2 linked regions of the Homo sapiens genome follow. The protein of the gene in region 1 interacts with the protein of each later gene in a biochemical or structural test. Each region holds a gene or a part of one and is shown on either strand. Other genes may lie near its edges.

What was found.
Region 2: the proteins of ITGB3 (region 1) and FGG interact in a test that uses a peptide from one of them, tested with the Homo sapiens proteins (one study listed by BioGRID).

What each region holds. Positions count from the first base shown.
Region 1 is NC_000017.11:47,305,821-47,312,860, reverse strand, and holds part of ITGB3 (integrin beta-3 precursor), read right to left. Parts: intron 5,391-7,040; coding exon 5,224-5,390; intron 2,723-5,223; coding exon 2,657-2,722; 3' UTR 1-2,656. UniProt on the Homo sapiens protein: Integrin alpha-V/beta-3 (ITGAV:ITGB3) is a receptor for cytotactin, fibronectin, laminin, matrix metalloproteinase-2, osteopontin, osteomodulin, prothrombin, thrombospondin, vitronectin and von Willebrand factor.
Region 2 is NC_000004.12:154,603,670-154,609,695, forward strand, and holds the end of FGG (fibrinogen gamma chain isoform gamma-B precursor), read right to left. Parts: coding exon 5,961-6,026; intron 4,982-5,960; coding exon 4,797-4,981; intron 3,314-4,796; coding exon 3,036-3,313; intron 1,398-3,035; coding exon 1,165-1,397; 3' UTR 686-1,164; coding exon of another isoform or gene 671-685; 3' UTR 502-670; downstream 1-501. UniProt on the Homo sapiens protein: Together with fibrinogen alpha (FGA) and fibrinogen beta (FGB), polymerizes to form an insoluble fibrin matrix. Has a major function in hemostasis as one of the primary components of blood clots.

The sequences.
Region 1 (7,040 bases):
TTTTCTCCAAAAGAGCTAGACACAATCCCTTTGTGCCGTGTTATCTGATGCCAGAACACTGTTTAGCTGTTCACCCCACAGGCCAAAACTGCTATTTGCTACCTCATGAATGCAGCTACAGGTTATCCCCACATATTGACAAATAATATTGGTCTTCAAGACCTGTGAACTTCATTCCAGTAGCTCAGACAAGATTCCTGATTTGATTCACCTGTTAAATACATTTTCTTCCCCCTTTGATACAGTTTCTTCATATAAAACATCTTATCTAAAGAAAATGTCCCATTAACACTCTCATGGACTCTGTCTTAGTAACTGAAGATTATAATCACAGGCGTGAGCCACCACACCTGTCTTAGTAGCTGAAGGTTATAATTACAGGCATGAGCTTCCACACCTGTTCCCTGCCACTATTTCTAAGGACTTCTTGGATCCATGACTATCCCTCCCCGCCCCCTATTTATCCCTCTACCATACTGCCATTCCCTACAGTAAGGAGTAATCCATGGGTGAGACAGGGCTCAGTCATTGCCCCATATCTAATTCCAAGGCTTATTCTCAATGTTAACACAATAATACAGAATAGATATTTCAGCTACTTATGGATTCCTCTTCCCTAATATGTGGATGCAAATGTGTGCAAAGTGAAGAAAGAAATAATAACTAAATGAAGCTTAAGTGCTACATCAGGAGAGACGTAACTATTAACAAATGTTGGAAAACGGGTTTGGAGAGAGGATAGAATGAGACTTTCATTGAGAAAGGTGATATGGAATGACATCTGCTCTTGCCAAAGCCAGGTCTCTCAGATCTCCCAACTAAAAACACAAACAGTATCAATATCCCAGAGAATCTTAACCGCACATTTGATGACACAGTAAGTCCCAGCATCTTAGAATGTTGATACTGAAAGAGACCTTCAAGACTGGCTGCTAAAATCCCATCATTTCTCAAACTAGAAAACAGCTTTAAGAAGAAGAAAGTGACTTGCCTTAATTAAAGATTATTTAGCTGTAACACTGAGGCCAGAGCTCCAGTTTTCTGCTCATGGAACAAATGTTGATAAGTCTTTCTTTTTTTCTTGGGCATTTGGGGGTGGCTTTTAATGTTGGATGTATGTCAACACCAATGGAGCCACTGCTTTTCTGGGACAAAAGAACAGTCCCTCTTCCTCAGGAAAGGTCCAATGTGTCCACACATCTATCCCCATAGCCTTCTATCATGAGAGAGCCCCTCACAGATCCAGCCACTGGCCAGTGACTTGCTGTGAATGATGCCAAGTGGGAGTGTCTGTACCCTGCCCAAGTCTGTGTGGTTTCCTATGCTCTCCTTCTTTGCCATCACATAAATTTACAAATATAATGCAAGCATGTTTATATACATGTTCTTTTAAGTTAAGAAAACCTCATCATGAGAAAAATAAAATAAAATTGCACTGTGGCCTCTCAGATTAAAGACTGAGTTAAAATGAGGTTGTCCAACCCATAGAAGAACAGGCCACACGTGCTGATACAACTGACCCATCATTCCATCCTGGCACTTATTCCCAGCCAACTCATGGGAATAATTCCTTCACAAGGCAGCCAAGAGGTAGAAGGTAAATACAATCAGCCCCATGGATGGATACAGCACACCAAGGCACAGGGCCAGGTATGTGGAGGTGCTATGGATGAGGGACAGGAGGCCGGAAGCATAGGGCCAGACCTCTGGCTCTACAATAGCACTCTCTCCCTTTGAGGAAAAGCATTTGGTCATGAGAGACATCCCCAGCTCATAGCAAATGTCTACAGCAGTGAGGGTGTGGAATTAGGAGGTAAAGAGATGGTGCTGGCCTAAGGGTGACACACTTCTTCTAAACAAACCTCCAGAGTAGAGCTGCCAATAAGGCAAATCTGAAGGGTTGTGATTATGAACTGGGAGATGCTGGTACATCCCCCAGGCCATGAATGACCCCTGAGTGGCCCAGACATCCTCACTCCCAACAGGTCAAAGAATTAGCTTGCAAGGACTTCCCTTGCGAGAGAACCATAGCTGGGTTGAGGGGATGGCAAAAGGCACAGGCAGCTCTAATAGTTCAGCTCTCCCTGACTCCTCCTTCGGCCTGAGGGAGGGGAAAGGAGGCAGAGGTACAGATGACCCGGGCTGCCAAGCCCAGCAGTTCCTACCATAGCTGCTGAGAGTCAGGCCTGAGAACCATAAATTTATGAACTCAGGGTAGAGCCAAGGCTTGGTGTCCCTTCCTCTGGAATGAGAGGCCTCAGCCCTGCCCTTCTCTTCAGGGACAATGGCCTGATGAGGAAAGCTGGCTTCTCACTGAGGTAATGAAGAACACCTGCTCAGCTCCATAGTCACCCTCAAGCTAAGCAGGAAGAATCCCTGCAGGAGGCATTCTGGGACAAAGGCTAAGGAGCTCAGCTTATCAGGACACATCACAATTTTAAATTACACACTCCCACACACAACACACACACATAAACACACAGACCCCCACATACACACACACAGACCCACACTTCCACATACTGACATTCTCCCAACCTACCCCACTCTGAGCCCCAAATCCCTCCCCACAAATACTGTCCTCTGTAAACATGATGGCAGGGACTCCTGCAATCGTGGCACAGGCTGATAATGATCTGAGGATGACTGCTTATCATTAAGTGCCCCGGTACGTGATATTGGTGAAGGTAGACGTGGCCTCTTTATACAGTGGGTTGTTGGCCTGTGGAGGAAACAGAATAGCATCTTACAGTGACTTCCTTAAGTCCTTCCCTACCCTGAATGTTTAAAATTCATCTCAGAAGTTTTCCCAAGGCACCGTTCTCTGGAATACATCATCAATGAAACAGAATAATGTTCATTTTGCTCACACTTTAGTTCTTGGCATGGGAATTGATAGGAAATAACAGGAGGAGATGAGGTAGAATGCCATCCTGCCACCGTTTCTTTTTTTTTTTTTTTTTTTCAGACAGGGTCTCATTTTGTTGCCCAGGCTGGAGTGCAGTGGCACAATCTCGGCTTACTGAAACCTCCACCTCCCCTGACTCAAGACATCCTCCCACCTCAGCCTCCCAAGTAGCTGGGACTACAGGCACACACCACCATGTCTGGCTAATTTTTGCATTTTTTTGTAGAGATGGGGTTTCTTCATGTTGCCCAGGCTGGTCTCAAACTCCTGAGCTCAAGCGATCCACCTGCCTCAGCCTCCCAAAGTGCTGGAATTACAGGCATGAGCCACCACACCTGTTCCCTGCCACTATTTCTAAGGAGCTATATTCAGCCTATCACTCTTCAGTGATTCCACAGCATTCGGGGATAGAACCTCTCCTATTTCACCCCTGTGTCCCCGTCTCTTTTGCCCTTCTCCTATTTTCCATTCCCTGTGACAGTGATAGGAGATGTGGACAAGGGACAGAAATGTATCAGGTGCAATTCAGAACACAGAGGAAAGCTTTTGCTCAAATAATTATTAATTTGTTTTCATCTAATCTGGCCAAGCACTAACCATGGCCAGGCATGGTGGTTTATGCCTATAATCCCAGCACTTTTAGGGGCCAAGGTAGGAAGATCACTTGAGCCCAGGAGTTCTAGACCAGCCTGGGTAACAGAGTGAGACCCTGTCTCTACAAGGGAAAAAAATACAAAAATTAGCTGGCTCGGTGATGTGTGCCTGTAGTCCTGGCTACTTGGGAGGGTGAGGTGGGAGGATCACTTGAGCCCAGGAGATGGAGGCTGCATTGAGCCATGATGGCACCACTGCACTCCAGCATGGGTGACAGAGCGAGACCCTGTCTCAAAAAAAGAAGGAAGGAGGGAAGGGAAGGGAAAGAAAAGGAGAGGAGGGGAGGAAGGGAAGGGGAGGGGAGGAAGCGTAAAAGGAAGGGGAGGGGAGGAGAGGGGAGGGGAGGGGAGGGAATGGGAGAGGAGGGGAGAGAAAGAGAAAGCACTATCCACAAACTGTCATGTTATCAGGAAAAAGTAAGACCCTCACTAGGTTTCCCAAACTATTTTCCAACAGAAAGTAACAAATCCTATAATGGTAGCTTCAAGAAACACATTCTTAGCCAGGCGCAGTGGCTCACGCCTGGAATCCTAGCACTTTGGGAGGCCGAGGCGGGTGATCACGAGGTCAGGAGTTCGAGACCAGCCTGGCCAACATGGTGAAACCCCGTCGCTACTAAAAATACAAAAAATAGCTGGGCACAGTGGCTGGCGCCTGTAATCCAGTTACTTGGGAGGCTGAGGCAGGAGAATCACTTGAACCTGAGAGGCCAAGGTTGCAGTGAGCCAAGATCGCTACACTCAAGCCTGGGTGACAGAGCAAGACTCTGTCTCCAAAAAAAAAGAGAAAGAAACACATTCCTGTGGGCCTCATAGGTACAGGATGTTCCACACTGTTCTAACAGAAACATCTCAGTTTCTTGGGACCCTTGAGTATAAAGCTCTGGGGTCAACATCAAATGGGAACAAACTTGCAGCCTAACTCTGGACATTTGGGGAGTCAAATAGCCATTTGGAGGGTCGAGGAAAAAAGTTGAAATGTGAAAGAAGAGCCAAAAGAGAATAGAGTAAGATTAAGTATATAGAAAGTTCTCAGTAAATGCTTATTTAATTGGAATAAATCAGGATAAAAGAGTAGAGTCTGATTTGGAAGTAACCTTTTATTTTATTTTATTATTATTATTATTATTATTATTATTTTTGAGACCGAGTCCTGCTCTGTCACCCAGAGCAGGGTGCAATCTCAGCTCACTACAACCTCTACCTACTGGGTTCAAGCAATCCTCCTGCTTCAGCCTCCCGAATAGCTGGGATTACAGGCATGCACCACCACACCCGGCTAATTTTTATATTATTAATAGAGACGGGGTTTCACCATGTTGCCCAGGCTGGTCTCGAACTCTTGAGCTCAAGTGATCTGCCCACCTTGGCCTCTCAAAGTGCTGGGATTACAGGCACGCGCCACCAGGCCCAGCCTGGAAGTAACCATTTATTTGAGGAGAAAGAAGAGAATGAGATGGAATGACATCCTGCCACTATTTCTAAGAGGCTGAAGGAAGCTGAAGGACAAGGGGATAGTGAGACCATCTCTCCCAGTTTCCAGAACAGAGGATAATGGAAAGACGATGGTACTGGCTGAACATGACCACCCAAAGCATCTGCTGCTTCCACTTAAGAGTCTCAGACCAATGACTTTAGAAAACGCCCAGCCCCGTCTCTTACTGTGTCCCATTTTGCTCTGGCGCGTTCTTCCTCAAATTTAGCGAATTCTTTTCGGTCGTGGATGGTGATGAGGAGTTTCCAGATGAGCAGGGCGGCAAGGCCAATGAGCAGAATGGCCCCCATCACTGAGAGCAGGACCACCAGGATGTCAGGGCCCTTGGGACACTCTGTGAGGAAGAAGCACAGAGCAGGGCGGTTGTGAATGAAGCAGGAGTCACTTGAACTGGCTATGAAAAAGGTGTTCTTGACAAAGTAACTAAGGTCCTTGAAGGAAATAGGACAGTTTTCAAAAATTAATTTTTTTAAGGAGACAATCATTAGGACAGCAATAATCTGCACTGAGTGGCTCAAATCAGAAGTCTAGACCTGGTAACCCCTAGACAGAACCCAGCCACACCTTTGTGTGGGGGTTCACCCAAGTGTTTATTTTAAAAATTAAACACAAAGAAGAGAACACCAGACACTGGGACCTACTTGAGGGTGGAGACGGGGAGGAGGTGGGGATCGAAAAACTACCTATGAGTCACTATGCTTATTACCTGGGTGATGAAATAATAGGTACACCAGACCCCCATGACTCACAGTTTATCTACGGAACAAACCCACACATGTACCCCTAAAGCAAAAATAAAAGTTTTTTAAAAAATTAAAAATAAAAAGCCGAGTGTGGTGGCTCACACCTGTAATCCCAGCACTTTGGGAGGCCAAGGTGGGCAGAGCACCTGAGGTCAGGAGTTTGAGACCAGCCTGGCCAACATGGTGAAACCCCATCTCTACTAAAACTACAAAAATTAGCCTAGCATGGTGGCGAGCACCTGTAATCCCAGCTACTTGGGAGGCTGAAGCACAGAATCACTTGAACCTGGGAGGTAGAGGTTGCAGTGAACCGAGATCACACCATTACACTCCAGCCTGGGTAACAGAGCAAAACTCCATCTCAAAATAAATAAATAAATAAATAAATGAATAAGAAATAAAAAATTGACTTTATTGGCAATATTGAATAATCAGGAGATTCTCCCCCTAAAATTTCATATTAGTCTCTTTAAAAAGAAAATCCAGGCCAGGCCCAGTGGCTCATGCCTATAATGCCAGCACTTGGGAGGCCGAGGCAGGAGGACAGCTTGAGTCCAGAAGTTCAAGACCAGCCTGGGCAACATAGTGAGGCTCTGCCTCTACAAAATTGTCTTTTTTAATTAGCCAGGCATTGTGGCATATGCCTGTAGTCCCAGCTACTCAGGATGCTGAGGTGGGAGGATCGTTTGAGCCTGGGAGGTCAAGGTCATAGTGAGCCATGATCGTGCCACTGCTCTCCAGCCTGGATGACAGAGGGAGAGACTATCTCAAAAGAAAGAAAGAGAGAAATACAGAAAGAGAGAGATTCTTATATTCCTGCAGAGCAGCAGTTAGCTAGAGCTGAGGAGGAGCTGCTCCTTTTAGTTGGAACTCATGTTTTCTAGTTTACCAGAATCCCCACCACTCTCCCTTCTCTCTCCTAGAGGAAGGCAGTGTGACTTGTTGGTGTGTCTGCGCTCCTGTGGATGTTACAGCCAGACTCCCTGGGTTTGAATCCTGACTTATCACTTAACTTTTATACATGATCTTTGGAAAATTACTTAACCTTTCTGAATGTCTGTTTCCTGTTTCTCCATCTTTAAAATGAAGATAGTAATAGCACTGACTTTAAAAGAAACTTGTTATGAGGAATGATTAAATTAAATATATCTTAAAAACTCAGAACAATGCCTGGCACAGAGTAAGTGCTCAGTAAATATCAGCTACCGTTGTAACGGATCTTCTTACACCCAGCTGTTTTC
Region 2 (6,026 bases), on another chromosome or scaffold:
AGAAGGAAGAGATGGTTCCATTCAGCTCACCTCATGACTAGTGAGAGATAGGGCAAATAGCTCCCTAAAGCTCTCTGCTCTGAGTTGCAGTCCTTTCAGAGTGACCAGGTCCCACCACAGGTGTTTGGAGCTAAAAGGTTCTGCTGGGAGACTCCCCAAGCAGCTTTCCTGTCTCCAGCTGCACTTTGGATACTATGCATCTTGGTTGTGTGGCTGTGACTCCTGCTTAGTGATTATGTTCTTGTATAGAGTATTGTCAGTTTGGGTTGCTGTATTTTCCTGTATTTGTCCTGTATCTCCTAGAGGGCAAAAGCCATAATTGCTATTTCCTTTGTAACTCCCAAAGAGTTAGGCATAACATTTAGCATAAAATGAGGACTCAATTACTACTGATGGTTGCCCAATTGTAATTGGTAAATTGGCAAAAAGTGGTGGTTTTTAATGGTCAATAAAGGTACCATGTATCTAGTCTTAGGAAACAAAAGGTTTATTGAAATGCATGTAGATAAATTATCATCAGCATAAAACTGTTATGGAGTTTTCAACATGGGGTCTTTTGCTCTTAAAATGAAGTGAAGCTTTGCAAGTCCATTGTCCAATAGGAAAAATATTATATCTCTCTGTTCAGATAAAGTCCTTTAAAAAAGTAAATCTCTTTTGAAACGGTCTTTTAAACGTCTCCAGCCTGTGAATATATAACAAAACAAAAACCATATTAAAAAGACATAATTTTCTCCATTTAAAAAGAAGAATTAAATAGGAATGATTTAGGGGTAATAAACAAGGAAAATACCTGGGAATTTGAAACTCTAAAATGTTCTCCTATTTTATTAAGTACATACTAAAATATTTGATATAATGAAAATAATTTACGAAGACAAAATAAATGACAAGTGGTCATAAAAATGCAAATAAAGTCAATCATTTTATTATTATATATTTAGGAACAAAGTTGAAATGTTATCTCCTCAAATAAACAATTTTTAAATAACTCTGATATCAGTAATTTGGAAATACAGTCCTAAATGAGTTTTAATTTCCATTGAAGGCTAAATGTCCTTAATAGAAGACTTGAAATCAATAAATATAGTAAGAGAAAAAAGGAAGAAACTTTCAGAGAATTTCTGAAACTTTGTGGGTCAATAGAAGTTAGCAGTTAATTTTCTACAAATCATCCTCAGGGTAAAGTGAGTCATATTCTGTTTCCGCAGGGTGCTCTGGTCTGACCTGTTTGGCTCCCCCCAGGTGGTGTTGCTGTCCTTCTCCAATTGTGAGTCTGTTGAATGGGATTATCTTCATAGTGGTTTTCTTCATGGAATACCACCGGGTTTTCCAAGTGGCCCAAATAATGCCATTATCATAACCATTAGGAGTAGATGCTTTTGAGTAAGTGCCACCTAAAACAAGTCGTAGATGTACATATCATTATTCTGGAATCTTTTTACCTCTGCAAGTCTATGAAGAGCTGTCTATTACGAAGTGCATTGCCAGTTACATAAAATTTATAGTATTATCTGCTAACTGAAAATATCTCCAAAGATTCCTAAAATATCAATTTATAAAATAAACATATTATTAAACAACATCTGTGCTGTGACTCATAGTCACATCCACACTTTAAATTTATTCACTACTAGTAGGGCTAGAAACCCAAAGTTCCCTAATTGGCCTCTGTCCCTAAGCTTATCCATCCCGGACTCAGCTGCTGTGGACCATCTTTCTTCAGGCAGGTTAGAAGAGAAGGAGCCACAAAATTCCTGATGAGGTCAACTCAGGTTATTTGAAAGCACAATTTTGTTGGTTGATTGAGGAGCTTTAGGAAATGGTTCTGGCATGTTATTTTATGTCTCCATTTTAAAGTGCAGCCTCTGTTGATTTGCCTTCTCCTTGTCCTAGGGAAGCAGATCTCATGTAATTCTGTAAAAGGCTTGTCAGAGCACAACACTGGCATGAACTACAGCTCTGGCATGGCGCCCCGGGTCACACAGATCAAGCATTTTCCCTTAGAGTTTCTTCTCATTATGTGGTTTGTGAGTGCAAAGATAAGTTATGTTTCTCCAATTTAAAAATATTGTGAAAATCAAACTGTTACTTTAAATAAACTGTGCAAAGTTTCCTAGTTGGTGATTGGCTAGGACATCAGGAGGTAAGGTTGCTCATCTTGGTAGATGAGGAGACTATGGTTTGCTACAAGCCCGGAGTGGTTTGGAACACTGGTTTCACTCATCTACCCAGCAGATATGGTAGGGAAGTCCTACTGATGCTAAACAGGTCTGGTCTGACTGTTTGGCTTTCCCAGGGTGGTGTTGCTGTCCTTCTCCAACGGAGAGTCTGTTGAGTGGGATTATCTTCATAGTGGTTTTATTCATGGAATACCACTGGGATTTCCAAATAATGCCATTATTGTAACATGGATCCTTTAGCATCGGTAAGGCTTCCCCACACATAACTGCTGGGTAGGTGAGTGAAACCAGTGTTCCAAACCATTCCAAGCTTATAGCAAACTATAGCCTCCTCATCCAACCCCCATCCTAAAATAAGTGTCTACTGTCCTCAGACTGGTCTCTTCTCTCAAGCTTTCACAAACCCCTGCCCTTACCAGTGCTTGCCTTCTCTTTATTCTGTTCCTCCAAACACCTGTTCACTGCGTGTATCTGACACAAAGCTCATGGGAAGCCAGGTTAATGTGTCAACAAGCATCCATGTAGTAATGTTAATCCATCCAGATCATTTATGTTGTATGTCTAAAGGAGATCCCACAACCCACAGTGCCAGCTATGATGGTGATAGTTTCACATATAATGCCAAACTACTGGATATTTTGCAGCAGGTGGATTTCTTTAGAAGGGCTAATTTTAGGCATGAACTTGGTATTATCCACTTCCAGTTTCAAAGAACTTAGTTGAAATAAAGAACATGATAAAATCCCTACTATCTTTATAAATTATTCTTCATTTCTTCATATCTATTTATTATTTTTTATGAAAATAGTATACACTATACATTAACTTGGAATCTAAGAAAGGAAAACATACCTTGGTAATAAACTCCATTGAGATGGCCAGCGTGACACTTGTTCATCCACCAACCAGATCCATCCTGTTCAGCACAGTTGCCTTCAAACTTATCATTGTCATTGTCCCAGGTACTGAACTGCATGCCATTATGGGATGTGAAAAACTTGTCACTAGGATCATCGCCAAAATCAAAGCCATCAAAGGCATCTCCAGCATCCCCACCAGCGAAGTAGGCATATGTTAGGCGGTACTTGTCAGCTTCAGGTCCCACCTTGAACATGGCATAGTCTGCAGTACTGAGAAGAAGGAAATACAACCATCACATGCTGACCCTCCTCAGGGATCTCAGAAGTTCCCTCTTTCGTAGGATGCTTCCTTGGAATTTTTGACTTTGTTTCTTAAGGCTGAAATTTGCTCATTGAGTGAAGTTTTTTGCAAATCTGGCAAGAGGCAATAGATATGTGAACCAGTCCACAGCTCATTAACACTTCCCGGGATGGGCCTAGAAGCCTTTGAAGCATCTCTGAAAACTAATAATTGCACTCACTTGGATGCTTTTTTGCTTGTTTCATTCTAAGATCAAATCCAGATGTGTAGATGACTCTAATTTCATATTTTCTACTTTTATTGAAATGTTATGTGTTGCACACACATTATCATAGATCACAGAAAGTATCTGACAGTGAGTGACCCTTAATTATTGCACAAAACTTGAAGGAGGTACAGTTCCATTAGCCACTCATAGCACCTGAAGGGTTAGGTGCTAAAGGGATTTTCTTCCTCAAATCAGTGTGGTAGTGGCAAGAAGGAGAGCTTCTGAGGGCATTACACAATCAAAGTCTTCCCTGTGTGGTCCAAAGCATGTGAGCTGAAGGAGTTAGAGAGATTCTTTCCTGGAAAAAATTGTGCAAGTGGACAACACTTCTATAGAGTGGGGGAAAGGATGGGCCTTAATGAATGAACAGAAATTTCCAGAAAATATTTAGCTTATTTTCTAATCTCCAGTGGCTGGGAAATGGAAGGTCCTTTCCTAGAAGAAGGTCTACTGACTATAGCACTTTCTGGATTAAAAACCAACCAAGCAATAAAAAAAAGTCCATGTGTTTGAAGACAATATATTTCACTATTCCTTATACATAACAAGAGGGTTGGATATTTTTCTGCATTTTAATTAGGTAACAATGCTTAAAACCTTCAAATATCTCAAGCAAAAAGAAGCCTCTAGATCATCAAAAGAGCTAGCTGGTTTACTTTTAGGGTAGCTCATGATTTGACAGAATAAATGGCCATCAAGGCACTGAGAAGTCTGAAGAGGCTGTATTTGCTTTTCAACCAGGATAGTTGTTAAGAGGACAGGCTCTAAAGTTAAACTACTTGAGTCTGAATTCTACCTCTACCACTTATCAGCAATGTGACTTTGAGCAAGTTAATCTATAAAATGGGATTAATAATAATACCTGCTTCATGAAATAGTAATTTAGACTAGATAAAATTATAATTTTATGCTCAATTCCTGGGACTGATTAAAAGTTCAGTAATTAGCTATTACTCTGAATGGTTCCAGGGTAATTAGATTGTACCAATACACTTAGATTCATCCTGAATAGAATTTACCTTTTTGGATTGCCCAAGAACCAAACAGACTCCTGGAGAAAATGGTGGCTGGATGTGCTGTTTGCATTTGTCAGGCTGCATTTGCCATTGTCTATTGATAGTTGGAAAGTGCACATTCCAGGCAATCTTTACAATAAAAAGTTGGAAGTCATTTCAAAACAGTACCTGGTTCTGCCATTCCAGTCTTCCAGTTCCACTCTTAATGCATATGGGATGGCAGACTGTGTGCTTATCAAATGAATCTTCTCATTTCCCAGCCAAAATTCTGTTGTGCCAGTAGGAGACAGATGTCCAAATCCTTCTTTATATTGAATCCAGTTTTTCTTGAAATCTACACTGCCATCAAGTCTCTAATTACACATTTGCAAGAGCAAAAGGAGAAAATAGACTATCAATGCATGTAAAGAGAATGCTGTCAACATTTTGTCAAAAATACAGAGCACTGGTTCTATCAACTCCCAACTAAGTGATCTTGGCCAAGCTACCTCAGTTTCCTCATGTATCAAATAGGAAAAATGATGGTTACTTCTTAGGGTTGCTGCAAGGATCATGAGAGAGAATATAAGAGAAATACTTAAGAGGGTTTCTGGCACATCATAAATTCTAAATGAGTGGTAATATTAAAAAGACACCTAGACGACTTCAGAACTCTAGCTGGATATTACTGATTCTTACACTTATGATGGAACCCATTGCTCAATCGGTGTCTGGCAACTAATGCTTCCACCATTCATTCCCTCTGAGCGCCCCCTGTAGAAACAGTTATAACAGTGGTGGGAGGTAAACAGAAAGTAAAGGAGCCAAGATTCCTAGTGGGTATCAGCAAGTGGCAGATGCAACACAGGTTCCTTGTCTTGGAGCAGCCCAAGTGTATCCTCTGGTGTGTGAAAGGGTGGTGATGGTGGTGGGGTGGTGGGGGGTGGTGTTGGGCTTCCTCATCTTGTGATGGGAAACCTCAGGTCTTGACCTACCTGACAAAAGAGTTTCCTTCTTTTTATTTGTCACTGTGGTACTATGATTATGTGCCACCATGAATCTACAAAGTCAGTGCCAGTACAATATAGAGTCAAGTCACAAACTCTGAAACTATACTGCCTAGGTTCAAATGCTGACTCTGTTGCTTATTAGTTATGTGGTCTTGGGCAAGTTATTTAACCTTGTGTGCCTCAGTTTCCTTTTCTGTAAATAGGAGTAACAGAAGTACCTTCCTCTTAGGGCTATTGCAAGGATTAAATGAGCTACGGTTCACAAGGTGCTTAGAAAAGTATCTGCCATATGGCAGAAACAATGTAGGAATTTATTAAATACACATGGTGGGGAAAAAATTACCTTCTGAAACACAGTCCATCCATTTCCAGACCCATCGATTTCACAGTAGACTAAGAATTGCTGGTT